5 separate regions of the Homo sapiens genome follow, and regions 1, 2, 3 and 5 are each reported to be linked to region 4. The links are microRNA targets in miRTarBase. Many come from high-throughput screens and were not tested one by one. Region 4 holds a microRNA gene; each other region holds the end of a gene's coding sequence.

Region 1 (4,149 bases), not on the chromosome of region 4:
AGTTAAAAGCTGCCTCTGAGCTCCCCCAGCCCCAGGCCCCCACCACCAGCCTCTGCCTTCCAAGATAACCTGTCTTGCCTGATCCTGGAAAGGCTTGTGAGAAACTTGGGGTGGTAAGAAATAAACCAAAGGAGATTCTCAAATTCTATCTCTGGGATTTCTGTTTCCTCAGGTGTAAAGGTAGAATCTGAACACCACCTAAACTGCCACCACACAGTGCCACTGTCTTTGCTAGCTGACGTGGAAGTACTGTGCAAACTTAACAGAAGTGCTGTGGAGATGCTAACTGACTGAGGCAACTAGGAGGAACCCTCCCTGCCAGGAAGAGGTTCTTGGGGATATACCTCAAAGCTTAGGGCTTTCAAATACTTCCTAGCCAATGGGCCCAACTGTCCAGCCTGGCTGGGGTAACGATCTACTCCCAACTCCTACCAATAATTCTCTGGAATTCTTAGCACCTTTTTCTTGCCAAAGCCCAAACAAAGCAATTTCAGATCTGAAAATTCTTCACAAGTAGAAGTGATTATTAACTTTAATTTCTATTTCACCAAGGAATGTGAACTGAAATACAGAGAGGTTAAGTAACTTACCTACAGTCACCAGCTGAACAGGCCAAGAGGACAAATGATGTTTCTAATTCCTAGCTGAGTTTTCTTTCTTTTCTTTTCTTTTCTTTTTTTTTTTTTGAGATGGAGTTTCACTCTTGTTGTCCAGGCTGGAGTGCAATGGCATGATCTCGGCTCACCACAACCTCCGCTTCCCAGGTTCAAGCAATTCTCCTGCCTCAGCCTCCAAGTAGCTGGGATTACAGGCATGCGCCATCACGCCCGGCTAATTTTGTATTTTTAGTAGAGACGGGATTTCTTCATGTTGGTCAGGCTGGTCTGGAACTCTCGACCTCAGGTGATCCACCCGCCTCAGCCTCCCAAAGTGCTGGGATTACAGGTGTGAGCCACCGCACCCGGCCGCTAAGTTTTCTTTTTACTAAATCAATTGAGGGGATCGCAACCCAGGTAGTGCAATGGAAGCAACCAAGTGGCTTTAAATCAATCAGATTCTCAGAGACTGATTCAGAGGCCTGGTGTGGGTTCTGGGAACCTGTTCAGGTAAGACAGAAAACCAGATCTGGTTTCAGGGCTCCCAGTGGGCATGTGGGCTTGGCTGGTCTTACTACATAGGGAGGTTGGAAGACAAAAGCACCAACAGAGGTAGGCCTAGGAAGGAAGAGACATTTTTCCAGCGACAGATGGCCCACTGCTCAGCCCTGGCTCCAGAATGCAAAAGAGATCAGAAATAGATGCTCAGCAAGAGGCATGTGCCACCCGCATCATGTCTCATGCAGCTGCCATAGCTTTAATCAGGAAAACACACATCTTATCCCACTTTGCACAGACCCTCCTGAAGTGCAGAAGATACTAGGAGGAGGCATGGGGGGAGCAGATGGAGGAAGAATGAAAAGCAGTCCAAAGAATCATTCTCTCACTTGGGAAGGACAGAAGAAAGCTGTACCCCAGCAGTGTCAAGGCAGGAGGCTTCACTCAAGCCCTGTTCCTCCCAGGCCTCACAGCAGTGGGAATTTACCTCAGCTAATAGAGGGAGATCTTACAACACATTTCTCAATCTAGATTCATGTCTTGAGACCCCACCCCAAGATCAAAAGCTCCTTAGTCTCTTCCTCTGCCCACCTCATTCTTCAGGCCCTCTCTCAAGGACCTAATCCCTTCAGGATCCTAATAAAATGAACAACATTGGGGGGAAAAAAGGTAAACCTTTATTTGGAAAAAGAGTTTAAATAACAATTTAAAACCCCATTTCACTTTCAAAACAGAAACAAGAAAGCAAGGAAAAGATAATCTATCAAGCATCTGCCCTCTGCTGTGGTTAGCCATTTTAAAGCTGCATTTCCCAGCAGAAGAGAACAGTGATGGGCCCTAGTCCTAGGAACCCACAGGGCACTGTCTTGAGACCCTTTTAGGCAGTGTCCAGGGAACAGACAGACAGAATGAATGGTGGGGTGTAGACAGACCTGGGGCTCAGACAGGCACATGCCCAGTACCCAGGAAACAAAGTTTGAAAATATATACACATAGAAAAATAAATTCCCTAGAACCTAGGCATGGAAAGCTTCTAACCATGAATGCAGCAGCACAATGCAAACTGGGTCTTTGGCTTTCAAAAAAAGGAAAGAACCTTAACCCCTGGCTTACTGTCCCGAACTCAAGTCTCTTGACCACTGTCTTCAGTCCCACTTTGGAGGTCGAGTGAGGCAAGAGCAAGTCAAATCTACCAGGGCCAGCAGCCACTCTGACTTAGGGAGATGTGTGGAGGGGCTGGCCCAGGATCTCCCAAGGCCACACCCCAGCAATGAAAGATTAAGGCATGCAGGTGACACAGTGTGGACTAAGGAGTCCCCTGAATAAGCCAGGGTACCCTTCTGTTAGGGGAGGGAAAGCAGACGCAACAAGCAGCTGAGGCCTTGCTGGACAGAGCCAATCCGCAAGTACTGCCACTTCAAATTCTTGGACCAGTTTTGTCCAAGGCCACCTTTCTGCTGAGGCAGTTTGGCCTGAGCTAAATACCAGGGTTTTCTAGAAAGGAAATGGAAGGGAAGCGGGAGATGGGAGATAGCAGAAAGTAAAAAGTGGTGGAAGGAGAGGAACAGAAAATTGCTTCTTAGGAGTGGAGAGGAAAGAGAATCAGCTTAGGTCTTCAGTCCCAGCTGAGGCAGCTGAAGAGTCTACCTGCTCCTTCCCCTACTGGAACTCCTACCCTTGCCCCAGTTCTGCAGGCTGCAGAGTCCAGTGAAACAAGAGTTTCCTGAAGACTCTTTCTCCTCCTAATCCTTAAATAGTTTTAAACCTCATACCACTACCCTAGCCCAATGAACCCCACATAAGGGTTCAAACTTCCGCCTCCCTCAGGGAAGCCTGGGGAAAGGGATGGCCCTTGTGAAATTACACCAGGTCTGTGGGGAGCTCTGGGTTGGAGGCACAGGGCCAGCTGGGACAGGTAGCGCATCCCCCAAAATTTGCCACTCCAGGATGTGGGCCCCATTTGTTCCCAGAGCCCAGACGCCGGGCCTGCCCTGGTTGGCAGGATGAATGCCTAATGAAACACAGAGGCTAAAAGGAGAGATGGGGCCATGCCCTGCTGCTGCCTGCTCATACATAGGTACTTGGGTAGACTCTGAACCTGCCCCAGGCCTACAGCCCCAACATGAAAAGTGGACTGGTCAGAGGCAGGCATGGCTGTGCAGAAGTCTCACCCCAAGAGGACACATACATGATATGCATATCTCACATATGCATGCCTGGCAAGAGGGCTGGGCCCAGAAGTCCTGAAGGCAGGGAAAAGGTCAGGTCAGAAGGTACATCAAGAAACGGCCTGAAAGCAAATAACCAATGAAATCAAGAACTCCCATAACCCTGGTAATTAAAAATCAAGGGGGAGCGCTGGATACATGGAAGGAAGGGGGAGCCCCCCTTCTGCCTCTCCCAGGGCCACTGAGTGTGTGGCACAGGATTAGGAAGAGGCTGGGGTGGGGCAAGGACCACAGGCAGAGAACGCAGCCAGGCCTGGAGAAAGTCTAACCGTGGGAAAAAGGGAACGAGGAGGGGGAAGGGAGGGGATGTAAGTTTCTTGGATCTAAGTTTCTAGATGCATGGGATTTTTCCACAGTCTCTGATCCAGTGAGCTCTTCTGGAAGAGAAGCTCTCTTCCCCTGGGAGCCCTGTCATGGGGCGGTGACTTCCATCCCGAAGCTGGCTAGCAGGCAGAGGTGGTCTGAAGAGCAGAAGGGGTTGGGTAAGCCATTGGCAGCCCAGAGTATCTCTTCAGAGAGAAGGGAGAGACGACCCAGGAGCTTGAGAGTTCCATCTCGATACAGCCTGTGATCTGGGGCACAAAGCAGAAGCCAATGGGTAAAAGCAGCCGCAGCCACACTGCATGGGCAGGCAGTGGCAGAGTCCTTTGGGAACGCCTTCTGCAGGCTGCATCCCCTTGGCTGCCCACTGCCCCTCACCTCCTCTTGCAGCATCTGGCTGAGGAGGCCCCATTTTCTCAGAGATACTCCATAATATCATCAACGAATAAAGACAGGTGAGTTCCGGGGAACTGGGGCAAGCTGGAGAGCCCACCATTATAAGATCT
Region 2 (4,149 bases), not on the chromosome of region 4:
GGTGCTGCCCAGCCAGCGCTACAATGCCCACATGGTGCCTGAAGATGGGATTCTCACCTGCCTCCAGGCCGGCAGCTGTAAGAGTTGGCAGGGATGGCTCTACCTGGAGCTGGGGGCTAGGGGGAGGGTGCTACAATGTGCATCCAGGTCCTACCAGGTGAGGGCCCTTGGTTCTGGTGGGCACAGTGTGAGGCTGGCTCTGGGCTCTCAATTGTGGCAATGGTTCCCTGGTCTGGGTACCCACGCAGAGATTTACCACCATGGAAGTCAGAGTCCCAGGTGGGGCATCTTGTCTGAATGTCTGTCCCTCACTGCAGATGTCCTGAGGTTTTACAACACCTACAGCCTGGTTCATTCTAAACGCATCAGCTACACCGTGGAGGTACTGCTCCCAGACCAAACCTTCATGGAGAAGATGGAGAAATTCTAGGTGAACCTCATGGTCCCCACACCCTCCTCTTTGATCTCTGAATCCACAATGAGTTCACAGCCTTCCCTGGCCAGACCCTGTTCAACCTCTCAGGAACAGGGATTCTACAACAGCAGGTCACAGCCTATGCATCACAGCTGGCCCACTCCTCAGGAACGGCTGGGACAGTGTCCTAGTGGTGGCCCGATGGTCACAGCAAAGCAACACAGACACTCCATCCCCACTATGACCTGCTGTGACCTCAAGCTCAGCAAAAACCCCAGGCTTTTTTCTATCAACCAATACCAAGAAATAAGTTACTCTTCTAAAATATAGTATTAGGCCAGGCATGGTGGCTCATACCTGTAATCCCAGCACTTTGGGAAGCCAAGGCGGGCAGATCATTTGAGGTCAGGAGTTCGAGACCAGCCTGGCCAACATGGTGAAACCCTCATCTCAACTAAAAATACAAAAATTAGCCAGGTGTGATGGTGCCTGCTTGTAATTCCAGCTACTTGGGAGGCTGAGGCAGGAGAGTCGCCTGAACTTGGTAGGCAGAGGTTGCAGTGAGCCGAAATCATGCCACTGCACTCCAGTCTGGGTGACAGAGTGAGACTCTGTCTCAAAAAAATAAAATAAAATAGTATTAATAGGAAATTTGAAATATAGTATAGCTGACAGATCAGGAAATAATTACCATTGAAAAGATAGTTTATTACTCACAGTTCCCAAGAGGAGGGGCCGCTGTGCCATAGGGGGAAGAGGAGGGGTCCCCAGGGAGGCATCAGGGCCGAACATGACGCACATGAGACAGAAAAACTCTGGACAAAGCAACTTTACTTTTATGATGGTTTCTGCAGGAAGGAACTGGTGAGGCAGGGTAAGCAGGCTTGAGATTTGCTAGTTTGAATAATTTCAGCAGGCTCCGTGGAATAAGGGCTGTCACTAGCTGTCTGGTATCTTGCCCTGGGGTGATTACAGCAGGTGGATAGTGGCCTGGAGTGTGAGAATCTGATAAAGGAGGTAGTTGGAATATGGTTTATATCAGTTGGTTTGCATTCGAAAAGTGCATTTGTGGGCAAGTTGCTGTATCTCTAGGAGAGGCAGGCCCTCCAGGATTAGCAAAACCTCAGATGTTAAAGCATGCAGAAAATAAAAGACATGGTTCAAATAGTTCCCTAACAAGCAGTTGTGCAATGCTGCTCTGAATGGAAATCCAACCTCACAGTTTCCCATCTAGAAAGAATTTTAAACTCTCTATTCTGTCTTCCACATACACGTTCCCTCCCACTGTTATAGCATCTGAGAATCTGCTTGAGCTCTGGATCTTCATCCAATCTCCTGATTAAGATTTCAAACTGGCCAGGTGCAGTGGCTCACACCTGTAATCCCAGCACTTTGGGAGGCTGAGGCATGTGGATTGCTCGAGGCCAGGAGTTTGAGACCAGCCTGGACAACATGGCGAAACCCCGTCTCTACGAAACATACACAAATTAGTTGGGTGTGGTGGCGGCGAGTGCCTGCAGTCCCAGCTACTTGGGAGGCTGAGGTGGGAGAATCTGTGGAACCCAGGAGGCGGAGGTTGCAGTGAGTTGAGATTGCACCACTGCACTCCAGCCTGGGAAACAGAGCAAGACCCTGTCTTAAAAAAAAAAAATTCAGACTGAGCCTCACAGTGGGACACTAGGTCGGTGTCAGCCCACAGTCCTACTAGAGTGCTGTCCTGCGATCAGGCCTCTTTGGGTCTGGCTATGCTGTCAGCTGAGATTCTGCCCAGGATCCTGTCACTCACATGTTGTCCCAGCTTGTTCTCAATGTGGCAGCCCCAAATGACAGCCAAAGTTCTTCCCTAATTGCCTACTTTACAGGAATCCTGTCCAAAAATGGAAACACGGGCATTCAGCAGCCCTTGCTCTCCCTCAGCCCCTCCCCTGACAGCCACTGATCTGTTCTTCATCCCTACACTTTTGATTTTTTCCAGAGTGTCATATAAATGGAATCGTGCAATATTTAGCCTTTTGATTCTGGCTTTCTTTAGTCAGCATAATGCCTCTGAGATTCATTCACTTTGTTGCATGTGTTAATATTTAGTTGCTTTTCGTTGCTGAGTAATATACCACTGTATGGATGGACCACACTGTGTTTATCCCTTCCCCTGTTAAAGGCTGGTTGAGTCGCTTCCAGTTTGGGGGCGATTATGAATAAAGCTGTTGTAAGCATTCGTGTACAGGTTTTTTGTGATCCTAAATTTTCACTTCTCCAGGGTATCAATACCCAGGAGGAGAATTCCTGCTGGGACCTATGGGAAGGGTACATTTAATGTCACGGGAAACGGACAACGTGTTTTGCACAGAAGTTGCACCATTTTCCCAAAAGCAGCATGTAAGCATCCCAGTTGCTTCCCATCCTTGCCTGGTGCTGTTAGTTATCCTGATATTAACTATTCGAATAGGCCTGTGGTTAATGTGGTTTTTATTTATTTATTTATTTATTTTATTTTATTTTTTTGAGATGGAGTTTCACTCTTGTTGCCCAGGCTAGAGTGCAATGGCATGATCTTGGCTCACTGTAACCTCCACCTCCCGGGTTCAAACAATTCTCCTGCCTCAGCCTCCCAAGTAGCTGGGATTACAGGTGCACACCACCACACCGGCTAATTTTTGTATTTTTAATAGAGACAGGGTTTCACCATGTTGGCCAGGCTGAGCTTGAACTCCTGACCTCAGGGGATCCACCCACCTCAGCCTCCCAAAGTGCTGGGATTACAGGCATGAGCCACCATGCCCGGCCAATGTGGTTTTAATTTACATTGCTTCAATGACTAGTAGTGCTGAGCATCTTTTCATGAACATGAAAAAGGCATGGTCGGCTGGGCATAGTGGCTCACACCTGTAATTTCAGCTCTCTGGGAGGTTGAGGTGGGAGGATCACTTGAGCCCAGGAGTTCTCTGTCTCTGTAAAAAGAAAGAAAAAGGAAAGGAAAGGGGAAGGGGAAGAAGGGGAGAAAGGAAGAAGGAAGGAAAGGAAAGAAGGAAGGGAAAGAAAAGGAAGAAGAAGGAGGAGGAGGAGAAGAGGAAGAAAAAGAAGGAGGAGGAGGAGAGGGAGGGAGAGAGAGAGAGAAAGAAAGAGAGAAAGAAAGGAAAAGAAAAAGAAGGAAGGAAAGAAAGAAAAAGGAAAGAAAAGAGAAAGAAGGAAAGAAAGAAGGAAGGGAGGAAAGGAAGAAAGAAAGAAAAGAAAGAAAAAGAAAGAGAAAGAAAAAGAAAAGGCAGGCATGGTGTGTGAGATGAGACAGGCTCGAGTTCAAGTGCTGTTTCTAGCACTCACTGCCTGGCTTTGGCCAGTGATCAGACCTCTCTGAGCCTCCATCTCCTCATTGGCAAATGGGTGAGATAGCGTCTGCCTCATAGAGTGGTTGCTATAGGATAAAGGAGATTCCGCAGGCACCAGCAAGCCTCCAGGGGAAGGCAGCTGCTATTGGGAGCTGATAACTAGTGTTGGAGCCCACCAGGGAGCCACGCTGCACTGTCCCACAAGCTTTCTCCATGCATCTTGGTCCCATCTTCCTGTGCTTGTCCTGGCTGCCCTACAGGCCCCTGTTAGGTGCCCCCAGTTCTGATCTCCAGGTGCACTCTGGGCCTAATGCCCTCCCTGCATCTCCTCCCATCTGGCTGCCAGCTCCACCTGCAGTGTGGGCCAGCCCTGCCCCTGGTCTCTTGCATGTCGACCTCAGAGACTCCCTT
Region 3 (4,149 bases), not on the chromosome of region 4:
GCCTGTCTCCACTGGGCTAGTTCAAGGGAAGAGACCATGTGCCAGATAGATACCAGGGCAACAGCACCTCCCTATGGCTTCGTGGCAGGATAGCAAGAAATATTAGCACCTGGATCTACCTAAGAAAAACGTCAACCACGAAGGGGATTTGTAGGAGGTGTAAGCTTTAGATTTTTATTATCATTAAGGAAAGTGGCATTTTCCTTAGGCTGTCATCTGTTGAATGCCACATGGTTACAGATCATGAGTGGAAGTGCAGAGAAAATACAGACTCAAGATACCCACTAAAGTTTTTTTCTTTTTTATTGTAAATTGACTATTTATAATTGTATAGATTTATGGGTTCTGTAAAGAGAGAGTTGTGTGGGGAAAAAATTTATGGGGTACAAAATGATGTTATGATTTGTGAACGCCATATGAAATAATTCAGTCAAGCTAGTTAACATACCCATCACCTCAAATACTTAACTTTCTTTGAGGTAAGAACATTTGAAGTTTACTTAGCAATTTGAAATGTACAGCACTCTACTATTAACTATATTCACCATGCTGTGCAATAGAATGCACAAAAAGAGAAAACATATTCTCCCTGTTTGAAATTGTATACCCTTTGCTCATCACCTCCCCATCTCCCCCTCCTCCAGCTTCTGTCACCACAATTCTACTCTCCACTTCTATAAGTTCATTGTTTTAACTCCACATATAAATGAGAACATGTGGTATTTGTCTTTCTAGCCCTGACTTATTTCACTTAGCATAATGTTCTCCAATTTCATCAATGTTGTCACAAATTTCAGGATTTCCTTCCTTTTTTTTTTTGAGATGGAGTCTCACTCTGTCGCCCAGGCTGGAGTGCAGTAGTGCCATCTCAGCTCACTGAAACCTCTGCCTCCAAGGTTCAAGCCATTCTCCTGCCTCAGCCTCCCAAGTAGCTGAGATTACAGGCATGCATCATCACACCCAGCTAATTGTTGTATTTTTAGTAGAGATGGGGTTTCACCATGTTGGCCAGGCTGGTTTCAAACTCCTGACTTCAAGTGATCTGCCTGCCTTGATCTCCTAAAGTGTTGGAATTACAGGTGTGAGCCATTGCACCTGGCCAGAATGTCCTTCTTTTTAAAGGCTGAATAGTATTCCATCATGTATATGCAATACATTTTTTTAATCCATTCATCTGTTGATAGACAGAGATTGATTCCCTAACTTGGCTATTGTGCGTAGTGTTGCAATGAACATAGGAATGCAGATATCCCTTCCACAAACTGATTTCGAGTCTTTTGCATTAATACACTGAAGTGGGATTTCTAGATCATATAATTCTATTTTTAGTTTTTTTTCGGGGGGGGGTGGAATTTCCATACCATTTTCCATAATGGCTACACCAATTTACATTTCCACCAACAGTGTACAAGTGTTTCCTTTGCTCTACATCCTTACCAACACTTATCTTTTGTGTCTTCATTTGAAAACATTGTTTTGAAATAAAGTACAGGATGATTAAAAACATAATAATAAACATTTTAAGACGTTGTGACAGGTGAGAGATTATATCTTATTGTGGTTTTAATTTGCATTTCTCTAATGATTACAAGAAGAAAGAAAGAAAGAGAGAGAGAGAAAGAAAGAAAAGAAAGAAAGAAAACATAGGGGAAACATATAAGACATTGGTGTGGGTAGTGATATTTTGGATTTGATCCCGAAAGCATGGACAACAAAATTAAATATAGACAAATGGTATCACATCAAACTAAAAAGCTTCTTAGTTCATGACGTGTAGCTAAAACAAACAAACTAAAAAGCTTCTGCACAGCAAAGGAAATAATCACCAGAGTAAAGAGACAGCCTATGGAATGGGAGAAAACATTTGCAAGCCAGACATCTGACAAGGGTTTAATATCCAATACATATAAGGAACTCAAACAACTCAATAGCAACAAAACAAACAAACAAAAAAGCAATTAAGACCTGCTTTCTGCTGACAAAGTCTTCTTCCTTACCCCTCCCTAATAAGAAGGAAGAAAAAAGGCAATTAAAAAAATGGGTAACTCCTCCTTAGTACAGTGGTAAAACTTAAACATTAAAAAAGTTTTGGGGCCAGCTCGGTGGCTCACACCTGTAATCCTAGCACTTCTGAAGGCCAAGGTGGGCAGATCACCTGAGCCCAGGAGTTAGAGACCAGCCTGGGCAACATGGCAAAACAGTCTCTACAAAAAAAAAAAAAAAAAATTAGCTGGGCTTCATCCATGTTTGTGTCACTGCACCTGAGCATAGGTGACAGAGTGAGACCCTGTCTCAAAAAAAAAAAAAAAAAAAAAGCTTTAAGTTGTAAAAATGGGTAAGATCAAAAGAGAAGGAAATAAAAAAATGTGTAAGGAAGCTGAACAGACATTTCTAGTGATGTTTTTAAAGCTATGAACCCATTTTGGCACAAAGGCTTTATCATATGCAGTCATTTACAAAATTTTTTTGTAAAGCCATCATATAAAAGTGTGAATTTTCTCACCTGAGTACATGACAAGAAAATGCTGAAATCAATATATAAATCAAATCATCTGTACTGGCACTGTTAATCTAGAAGAAGGTGGTTGCATAGAGAATAGCAAGAATTTAAACCAGCTTATTGAAGTGTGAAAAGAAAAAAAGAGAGAGCTTCAGAGGTAGGCTTTGCCTCTTAAAAAAATTAAAAATAGCCGGGCGCGGTGACTCACGCCTGTAATCCCAGCACTTTGGGAGGCCGAGGCGGGCGGATCATGAGGTCAGGAGATCGAGACCATCCTGGTTAACACAGTGAAACCCCGTCTCTACTAAAAATACAAAAAAATCAGCCGGGCGTGGTGGCGGGCACCTGTACTCCCAGCTACTCGGGAGGCTGAGGCAGGAGAATGGCATGAACCCAGGAGGCGGAGCTTGCACTGAGCCGAGATTGCGCCACAGCACTCCAGCCTGGGCGACAGAGCGAGACTCCGTCTCAAAAAAAAAAAAAAAAAAAAAAATTAAAAATATAAGTCACTGTCAGTGTTGTGCTTGGGAGTTAGCAGCCAAAAACAAACAAACAAACAAAAAAAGAAGTCATCGTCTGTGAAAAGAAAAGAAAAAAAGAAAAAAGAAAAAGACTTTGCATCCATTGAAGTATGCAGCAAAAGAAAACAATTTTTAAAATAAAATAAAATGGGTATAGTTGGGAGCTTAGCAATGGTCATACAGAATGGAGTAATGGACACTGGAGGCTCTGAAAGGTGGGAGGATGCCAGGGGGATGAGGGATGAAATCCTACCTATTGGGTACAGTGTTCACTATTCTGGTGATGAGGATGCATATTTCACCACTATGCAATATATCAAAGCAACAAAACTGCACTTGTACTCCTAAATCCATAAAAATAAAAAATTATCTTGGCTGAGACATCTTTAAAAAATAATAAAATAAAAAAATAAAAATTTTAATAGAGAGAGAACAGTAAGAGCAGAGCAAGGACCTTAGTCTATACTTTCAAATGGGCTTGATCATTTGAAACAATAAAGTTGTTCATTGAATCTTCACAAAGTATTATAAAAAAGTTGTTCATTGGCAGAATTTCCCAACAAGTTAGTATAGATTACATACTCTTTGATAAAAGCAACAATAAAGTTAATTTTTTTTCCTCTTTAGTATTTGCTTTAAGAGAAAAATCCTAAATTTCTTCAGAGGAGGAAAAAAAGAGAGGGAGGGAGAAATCATTAAAACTTGTAGAGATTTCCGATGCCAGTAAACCATGAAATATGAAAGTATATTTAGCAATCATGGTGATTTAGCTCATGGTAATTGGCATATGTATAATTATAATTTGCATTCCAGTTATTTAAACTGAGATATTCTTGATCAGGTTGAACACACTGTGAATAGAAGATCTCTTTCCCCAGGAAATAGGATGGAGAGAGTCTTTGGAGAATGGCCTCACTGAACTGGTAAGTCAGCTTCCTCCGGATTTTGGTAATTTCCCCACTTCTTCCGTAATTTCTGAGTGCCCTGGCCATTTTCTGGTAAGTCATGGTCTTCCTGTTGCCTTTTCTTTTCCCCCAAAGCTCGGCAAGTTTTTCTTTGTTTTTTGATACAAACTGAAAGATGCCTTTGGTTTTATCTACCCACTGAATACAAGATGCCATCTCCGGA
Region 4 (4,149 bases):
GGATTATCTCAACAGACAGAAAAACCATTTGACAAAATCCAACACTCTTCCATGAGAAAACCACTCAATAAATCAGGACTAGAAGGAAAAGCTTTCAGCTGATAGAGAGCATCTACAAAACCCCCAAAGCTTACATTACAATTAATATTGAAAGACTGGGCTGAGTGCTTAGCTCATATCTGTAATCCCAGCACTTTGGGAGGCCGGGGCGGGCAGATCACTTGAGCCTAAGAGTTCAAGAGCAGCCCGGGCAACACAGCAAAACCCTATCTCCACAAAAAATACAAAAATTAGCTGGGTTTGGTGGCACGCCCTGTTGTCCCAGCTACGTAAGAGGCTGAGCTGGGAGGATCACTTGAGCCTGGAATTGTGAGTTGTGACTGTACCACTGCACTCCAGCCTGGCAACAGAGCAAGACGCTGTCTCAAAACAAAAAAACAAAAAAAAAACTGAATGACTGAATGCTTTCCTTCCTCAAGATCAGGACAAGAGAGGCACACTTCCATTAATTCTATTCAACACTGTACAGAAGGTCCTAGCTTGAGTAACTGGATAACAAAAGGAAATAAAAGGCATCTAAATTAGAAAGGAAGAGGTAAAACTTCCCTATTTGCAGATGACATGAACTTCTAAATACAGGAAATTCCATGGTATCCACGAAAAACAGAGCTAACAATTTTTTTTTTTTTTTTTTTTTTTTGAGGTGGAGTCTCACTCTGTTACCCTGGCTGGAGTGCAGTGGCGTGATCTCTGCTCACTGCTGCCTCCACCTCCCAGGTTCAAGCGATTCTCCTGCCTCAGCCTCCTGAGTAGCTGGGATTACAGGCACCTGCCACCAAGCCTGGCTAATTTTTGTATTTTTAATAGAGACGGGGTTTCACTATGTTACCCAGGCTGGTCTCAAACTCCTGATCTCAAGTGATCCACCAGCCTTGGCCTCCCAAAGTGCTGAGATTACAGGCATGAGCCACCATGCCCGGCCAACAAATGATTTTTGTAAGGTTGCAGGATACCAGATATATATATAAATATAAAATGTATTTCTAAACATTAGCAATAAATAATTTGGAAATGAAATTAAGAAAACAATTTCATTTACAACAGCATCAAAAAGAATAAATATGTAGGATTAAATTTAACAAAGAAGCCTTGTATACTGAAAACTACAAAACATCATTGAAAGAAATTAAAGACCTAATTAATGGACAGACATCCCATGTTCATAGGTTGGAAGACTTAACAGTGTTAAGATGGAAATGCTCCCCAAACTGATCTACAGACTCAGAGCAATTCTTATGAAAATCCTGAGTGCCTCCTGAAATTGACAAGCTGATCCTAAAATATATATGGCAATGCAAAGAACCCAGAATAGTAGAAAAATCTGAAAGAAAAAAAAGCAAAGTTGGAAGAATCACACTTCTCAATTTCAAAACTTACTACAAAGTTACAATAATTTAGACAGTGTGGTACTGGCATAAAGACAAATATACAGATCAATGGAACAGAATTGAGAGTCCAGAAATAAACCAATACATTTATGGTCAAATAATTTTTGACAAGAAATGCCAAGACAATTTCATGAAGAAAGAATCATCTTGTCAACAAGTTTTTCTTATGGTGCTGAAACAACTGGTTATCCACAAGCAAAAAAATGAAGTTTGACCCATACCTCACACCATTTACAAAGATTAACTAAAAATGGATCATAAATATAACAACTAACAGTATAAAGTTCATAGAAGAAAACTTATGTTGGCCAGGCACGGTGGCTCATGCCTATGATCCCAGCACTTTGGGAGGCTGAGGCTGGTGGATCACTTGAGGTCAGGAGTTGGAGACCAGCCTGCCCAGCATAGCAAAACCCCATCTCTATAAAAACACAAAAAAATTGGCAGGGTGTGGTGATGGGTGCCTGCACTCCCAGCTACTTGGGAGGCTGAGGCAGGAGAATCGCTTGAACCAGGGAGGCAGAGGTTGCAGCTGAGCTCGCACTACTGCACTCCAGCCTGGATAACAGAGACGCCATCTCAAAACAAACAAACAAAAAGAAAACATATGTCTAACTCTTTGTGATCTTCGCCAATGGTTTTTATAGATATGACACCAAAAACACAAGCAACCAAAGAAAAAACAGACTAAACGGGTCTTCATCAAATTTTGAAACTTTGTGCTTCTAAGAACACCATCAAGAAAGTGCAAGATAGCCAGCCCACAAGTAGGAGAAAATATCTGCAAATCATATATCTGATAAATGACCAGTGTTTGGAATACAGAAACTACACTTATAGCTCAACAATAGAAAGGCAATCCATTTTAAAAATGGCAAAGGATCTGAATAGATACTATCTGAGTAGATTTTTCTTCAAAGAAAATATACAAATGACCAATAAGCACATCAAAATACATTCAGTCTCATTAGTCATGACAGAAATGCAAATCAAAACCACAATGAGATACTACCCCACACCTACAATGATGGCTATAATCACAAATACAGATAACAAGTGTTAGGATATGGAGCAACTGAGACCCTCATACATTGCCACAGGGAGTGCAAATGGTACAGCTACTTTGAAAAACAGTTTCACAATTACTCTAAAAGTAGACTGACCATATGACCTAGCAATTTCACTCCTAGGTGTATACCCAAAATAACTGAATGTCCACACCAAAACCTGTACACAAATATTCATAGCAGCATTATTCATAATAGTCAAGCTGGGGAATCAACCCAAATGTCCATCAACTAATGAATAAACAAAATGTGAAATATCCATACAACAGAATATTATTCAGCTATAAAATGGAATTACGTTCTGATATATTTAACAACATGGATGAACCTTGAAAACATTATGTCAAGTAAACCACGTCAGCTACCAAAGGCAACTTGCTGTATGACTCCATTTATATGAAATGTTCAGAACAGGGAAATCCACAGAGACTGAAAACTGATGAGTAGTTGTGAGAAGCTGGGGGGAGAGGGAATGAGGAGTGACTGCTAATGGAATTGATTTTTGGGGTGACAAAAATGTTCTGGAATTAGATAGTGGTGATGGTTCAACAAATCTACCAATATACGAGAAACCACTGAATTTAAAATGATTAATTTTGTGGTATTTGAATATCTCAATATAAAAAACAGACTTTGCCACCCTGACATTTAGTTATCTCTATACTCCAGTTTATTCCAAATCTTAGACCATCTATACCACAAAATGAAATTTTTAAATATCATTATAGTATAATTTCCAAACAGATTTTATTTAGAAGATGTAGAAATTATCTTTCCCATGCACTCATATTTCTACAGTGCTATAAAAATATTTCTAGGGAATAAATTCAAATATTGTCTTTTGCCAGTAGGCATTTTTCCTCCTGGTTCAGACAAAAATCTATTGATCTTTGAGTATTTGTCTTTTCTGAGAGTGGTGCTATTTATCAACATGAATTTTATGGGCTGATGAAGTACTAAATACTTACAATTAAGAAGGTCCAGTTGTGTATCTACTTTAGGGCCCATTCATCCTGGTTACTATCTATGCATTTCTTGTAATTTCACAGTGAGTTGGGATTTACATGAAAGGAATACTACTGCCAGGAGTTTCAAATGACAATGACAGCTTCCCCATTTGATGCCAAACAATTTAATCTTGCTTCCCTCCAGCTAAGGGAAGAAGGGGTTCCCTTGGCCATCGAAGAACTGAGATTTAAAGCACAACCCTTGAATTTCCTGCGTAATTATCTTTCCTGGGTGGTCCATGGTGGGGCACAGTTGATAGTTATTTGTCAGATAAATGCGGCAGACAATCACTGATGGGATACCATTTTCTTTCAAATCCAAGAATGAGACAGCTCTAAATAACTCAGAAAAGACATTTCAAATACAGAGTCATGCTCTGTTAGAGCTAGAGGGGTTTGAAATACCTAGTTCAGAAAGTTGCAAAATGTATTCTAAGGAATACTAGTTCCACAAGATAATCCATGAGAAGAAACTCTAAGAAATCTATTAACACACTGTTTTCCAAAAATACTTGCCCACAGATCCTTTTTCTGCATGACACCTATTCATGACCTAGTAACATGTTTTGAAAAATCCTAATCTGGTCAAAAATCCATTTCACAAAAGATAAAATTGCTCACGGCTCT
Region 5 (4,000 bases), not on the chromosome of region 4:
CTCTGCAGCAAACGTGCAGCCAGGATGCAGGATGCGCACCCTAGGATTCCTCAGTTCTCCTCACTCACACGGGCTGAGCCCACTCGTGCCTGTGCCACCTCTCATTCCTCTCAGAGTTACAGTATGATGGCTGATTTTGTTTTTTGAGCAGTTAGGCACCTTCAATTTCATGTTGCATTATTAGTAATACAATGGCAGTTAGGGCCTCTACTATGGAAATGAGAAAATTTCAAACTACATTCTTTGGGGGAGGAGAGTAATAAAGCTGCATGGTTTAAAAATTTACCTAGTAGTGGATTTGATAGGGTTTATATAATTTCTACAAGAAAACATAAGCCAGGAAAAGGACAAATGCTTGACATGCAAAATCTGGTTAGACATATACTAAACTAAGCCTGTGTGTCCCCCTGTAGAGAGGGGCCCAGCGTGACTTTTTTTTTTTTTTTTTTTTTTTTTTTTTTGAGGTGGAGTCTCACTGTCGCCCAGGCTAGAGTGCAGTGGTGTGATCTTGGCTCACTGCAACCTCTGCCTCCCGGGTTCAAGTGATTCTCCTGCCTCAGCCTCCTAAGTAGCTGGGAGTATAGGCGCGTGCCACCACGCCCGGCTAATTTTTGTATTTTTAGTAGAGATGGGGTTTCACCATGTTGGTCAGGCTGGGACTTGGGTTCTTAATAAAATACCACTCTCTGTGATGGCTACATCTAAGCCTTTGAAGGTGAGCTGTGGACATACCACATGTGGACAGCATGAAATGCTTCTTCTGACACTGAGAGTCACTTGAAAAACTTGAATTCAAAGTCAAGCAGGCCAAATCTCACACCTCATGAATCCCAGGAGGTACACAATGAAGAAGAGCTTCTGCCTTAAAGGAACAAGGCTGTCTGGGAGGCCTGAGAGTCCATTAAAAGACACCGCATTAACTACAACAAAAAGAAGAGCAGCACCACCCACCAGTGGTGCCCCAGACACACCTCTCCTCCAAGCTCTGGGCTGCTCCTCTTGGAGTCTACACTTAGACCCTGGGGGTGGGGGTGGGCACACAAATGGACAGAGTGGTCTAAATGCAGGTCTCCTGGGGTTCTGCGAAATCTAGCCAGAAGCATCTCCATCTCGGTGTCCATTTCGATCCAACTAAGCTTCCAGTAAAGACACTGCAGCAATGTAAACATGCAACCTAAGCTAGCATGAGGTTCTAGATAGTAAGCCTGAACTAGGAATAAGGCAACTGAACTGTGACTTTCGGGCCAGGGTCATCCAGCTGCAATTATCCAGGCTTGGCCTGGCTTCTCTAGGGATTCATTCTGGCCTGAACTTCCTGGTAATCATGACATGAACTTCTGGCTTCTGAATTTTAAGTAAATACTTTGAATATATAAATTTGGGAGGTGAAACAGGTTTACCCTTTTCAAGTCTCCATGACTTGGGCACTTAAGTTTACTTTCACACTAAGGAAGCCTTATCATAGATGCTCTTTACTGTCTATCATATCCATTCCTAGCATTAAAGGTGAAAATTAGTATGATCACAGACTCTCTTTAGGATATTCTCTCTTAACTCTCTCATAATATTACATACTCAAAAGCATAATTTCGATTCAAGAATCCCTTGATTCGTCTGTTCACCGAAGCCCACTGAGACTACACTTGAGGTGCAATCACACCTACTGGTGCGTCCACTTTATGGAAGTCACGTGGCTCCCTGGACACCATCTCCCGGTGTCAGCAACACTCTGTATCCCACTATAGCTTTCTCGTTCCCAGATGATGCATAAGGAATTCATTTTTGGTTGCTTAATTTACATACTATCTGTGAAAACAAACTATTCACAATTGAGCATGAAAACTTATAAGCTTCCCTGAATTCTGCACAATTCACACATAATTAGGTAGACAGCAATAGAAGACACTAAAATGAGAAGCAGAAACCCTGTCCAGGAAGCATGTTTAGATCAACAAAAGCCAATCATTCTTTATGCTAAAAACTAAGACCAAACTAAAACAAGTATGTAATTCACAAGTAATTTTCTAAAATTTTAGCTAGAAAAAAATAATCTATGGACTTATGATTGAGTTACCATTAAAGCTTAAATGATTGTTCCTAAGGAACCATCATATCTGTCAGCATTATTCACAGCTAATCCTTATGCTAGCTGGTTGAGCCAATTGGGTTTTTACCCCATCATTAAATAGTGCTCAGAAAAGTAAGCAGTGCATCTTAATTGGTTAAATACTACAAAATGACCTGTATCATAGAAACGAAGACACTTTCATTCAAAGAATATCTTAAAATTACTATTGCTGAAATAAATCAAAATCTACATTAAAATATTACTAAACACCATTACATGCCATAAAAGAATAAATAGAAATCATGGCAGATCAATAGCAGCATAACAAAGCTTCTTTACATATTTTCACACTTTGGGCCGGGAAAGTACTCACAGCCTAGGAATACATTGGTAGAGTTCGGAATCACATTTTCTTTTAACTCCATAATTCTACAACAAAATAAGGGCAGTGTGAATAACAGCTCCCTTTTCTGCATAGCTTTAAAACTATTCTCAGTACACTCAAGGAAAGGAACCAGAATGGCTTTGTCAGATTGGTCCACTGGTCCTTTTGTCAAAGTGTTAAGGAAAACAATCAACAATGACAGAAAAGGAAAATAAGGCTGTGCTTCACACACAAACTTAGCATTTTCAGAACCAATGGAGAGTTTAACCTAAAATGAAGATTTGATAGGATGTGGGCATTCCCAGCCCCAGCCTTTCCTTCAAAGGTATGACATGCCTGTGTCCACACCACCAGAGCCTGACAGTGCCCTATTCAAATGGTAATGCTGCACTGGGGGCCTGCTGCAGGGCAGGACTGGGGCACTTAAAAACAAAATGCTATTAAGAAATTTCACAACTTTTAAGGCCCAAATGGGGCATTCATATAAAATATACTTCACTTGAGGAAATAATTCCTAATTTGCCGGCTTAAATTCTGGTCCTAAAAACTAGAAGCTACTTTGCAGAGCTGCCTTCTACTCTGTTCAAAACTTGACTTGTCAGCCCAAAGCCCGTTTCTATGGGGTAGGCTGGGGGAAGCGGTGGGGGCCGGGCTGAACTTCTGCTGTGAGGCTGGTGACTACTCCTCTGTAAGTCCTTGAAAGTGAAAGCAAGCTGAGAATCTGACTCCTTATTCCACAGCCTTGCTCCTAGCTGATGAAAACACCCACATAACTTAACACAATGATCGCTCTCTTTTTTTTTTTTTTTTTTTTTTTTTTTGTCAAAACAAGGATCTGCTGGTGATGCTTCACAGTGAAACCTCCATTATCACTGAGAATGTCACTTGGAAAACATTCTTAAGAAATGAGTCTCTTTCTCATAGGCTCAATTTCAGGATTCTCAAACTCAATGTTCTGCTCAGAAGTTTCCATGATGAAGCCTATTTGTCTCTGAGGCTGGGGCTCTGCCTTTAGACTTATTCTGCTCCAGTCATAGGTTGTGGTTGTCTTTGTTCTTGGTCAGAACCTGCAAGTAGACTTCATGAAGTGTACTGAGGAAGCTGGAATCATTCTAGAAGAGATGGTAAAGGTTAAGGATACGAATGCCACATTTACCTCATCAGATTTTACTTCCTTGGTAACAGCTTAGGAAAAAAATTGTATAAATGATTTGTATAACTGATAATCCCACCACCCAGAGACAATCATGATTAATATTTTGAGTTCATGCAGATATTTCTCCACCAGGACTGTATGCTTAAAAAAAGAGAAACAGTACTCCCAGCTAGTCTGTTTTTGTTTTTTTTTTGCCTGCCTTGGCCTCCCATAGTGCTGGGATTACAGGTGTGAGCCACTTTGCCTGGCCTCCAGCTAGTCTTTTGAATTTACTTTATGAACTGATTCTGTAAGAGGAATTTATAAAATTTCTTTCATTAAATAATGAAAAATCAAAGATAAAATTGGTATCCTACATACCTTTATTAGATGTATTAATGTATCCTGGAGC

What was found. Region 4 holds the annotated microRNA hsa-miR-562 (AAAGUAGCUGUACCAUUUGC, at 2,554-2,573, opposite strand). A microRNA usually pairs through its seed, bases 2 to 8, with sites in the 3' UTR of a target mRNA and lowers its output. Matches are read on the target gene's strand: a 7mer-m8 pairs with bases 2 to 8, a 7mer-A1 pairs with bases 2 to 7 and ends in A, and an 8mer does both.
Region 1: miRTarBase lists ANGEL1 as a target of hsa-miR-562. Seed matches in the 3' UTR shown: 7mer-m8 at 794-800.
Region 2: miRTarBase lists SEC14L6 as a target of hsa-miR-562. Seed matches in the 3' UTR shown: 7mer-m8 at 920-926 and 7mer-m8 at 1,941-1,947.
Region 3: miRTarBase lists SPIC as a target of hsa-miR-562. The part of its 3' UTR that is shown has no 7-base or 8-base seed match.
Region 5: the mRNA of DCP1A is a reported target of hsa-miR-562. Seed matches in the 3' UTR shown: 8mer at 566-573.

The regions. Positions count from the first base shown.
Region 1 is chr14:76,785,495-76,789,643 of GRCh38, forward strand. It overlaps ANGEL1 (angel homolog 1), which reads right to left. Exons shown (of 10, transcript NM_015305.4): 10 at 515-3,894. The coding sequence ends at 3,734. VASH1-AS1 (VASH1 antisense RNA 1) reads right to left here and starts at 1,230. Exons shown (of 2, transcript NR_104184.1): 1 at 591-1,230.
Region 2 is chr22:30,521,278-30,525,426 of GRCh38, reverse strand. It overlaps SEC14L6 (SEC14 like lipid binding 6), which reads left to right. Exons shown (of 12, transcript NM_001193336.4): 11 at 1-77; 12 at 318-2,628. The coding sequence ends at 430. Among named protein-coding and RNA genes, the nearest start is that of SEC14L4, 18 kb to the right of the region's middle.
Region 3 is chr12:101,486,393-101,490,541 of GRCh38, reverse strand. SPIC (Spi-C transcription factor) reads right to left here. Exons shown (of 6, transcript NM_152323.3): 6 at 3,545-4,149. The coding sequence ends at 3,771. Among named protein-coding and RNA genes, the nearest start is that of SPIC, 13 kb to the right of the region's middle.
Region 4 is chr2:232,171,137-232,175,285 of GRCh38, reverse strand. MIR562 (microRNA 562) reads right to left here and starts at 2,633; the gene lies at 2,539-2,633. All of the region lies in intron 9 of DIS3L2 (DIS3 like 3'-5' exoribonuclease 2), which reads right to left.
Region 5 is chr3:53,284,096-53,288,095 of GRCh38, forward strand. It overlaps DCP1A (decapping mRNA 1A), which reads right to left. Exons shown (of 10, transcript NM_018403.7): 9 at 3,970-4,000; 10 at 1-3,565. The coding sequence ends at 3,485. The region is part of intron 1 of LOC107986087 (a long non-coding RNA gene); the gene reads left to right. Among named protein-coding and RNA genes, the nearest start is that of TKT, 30 kb to the left of the region's middle.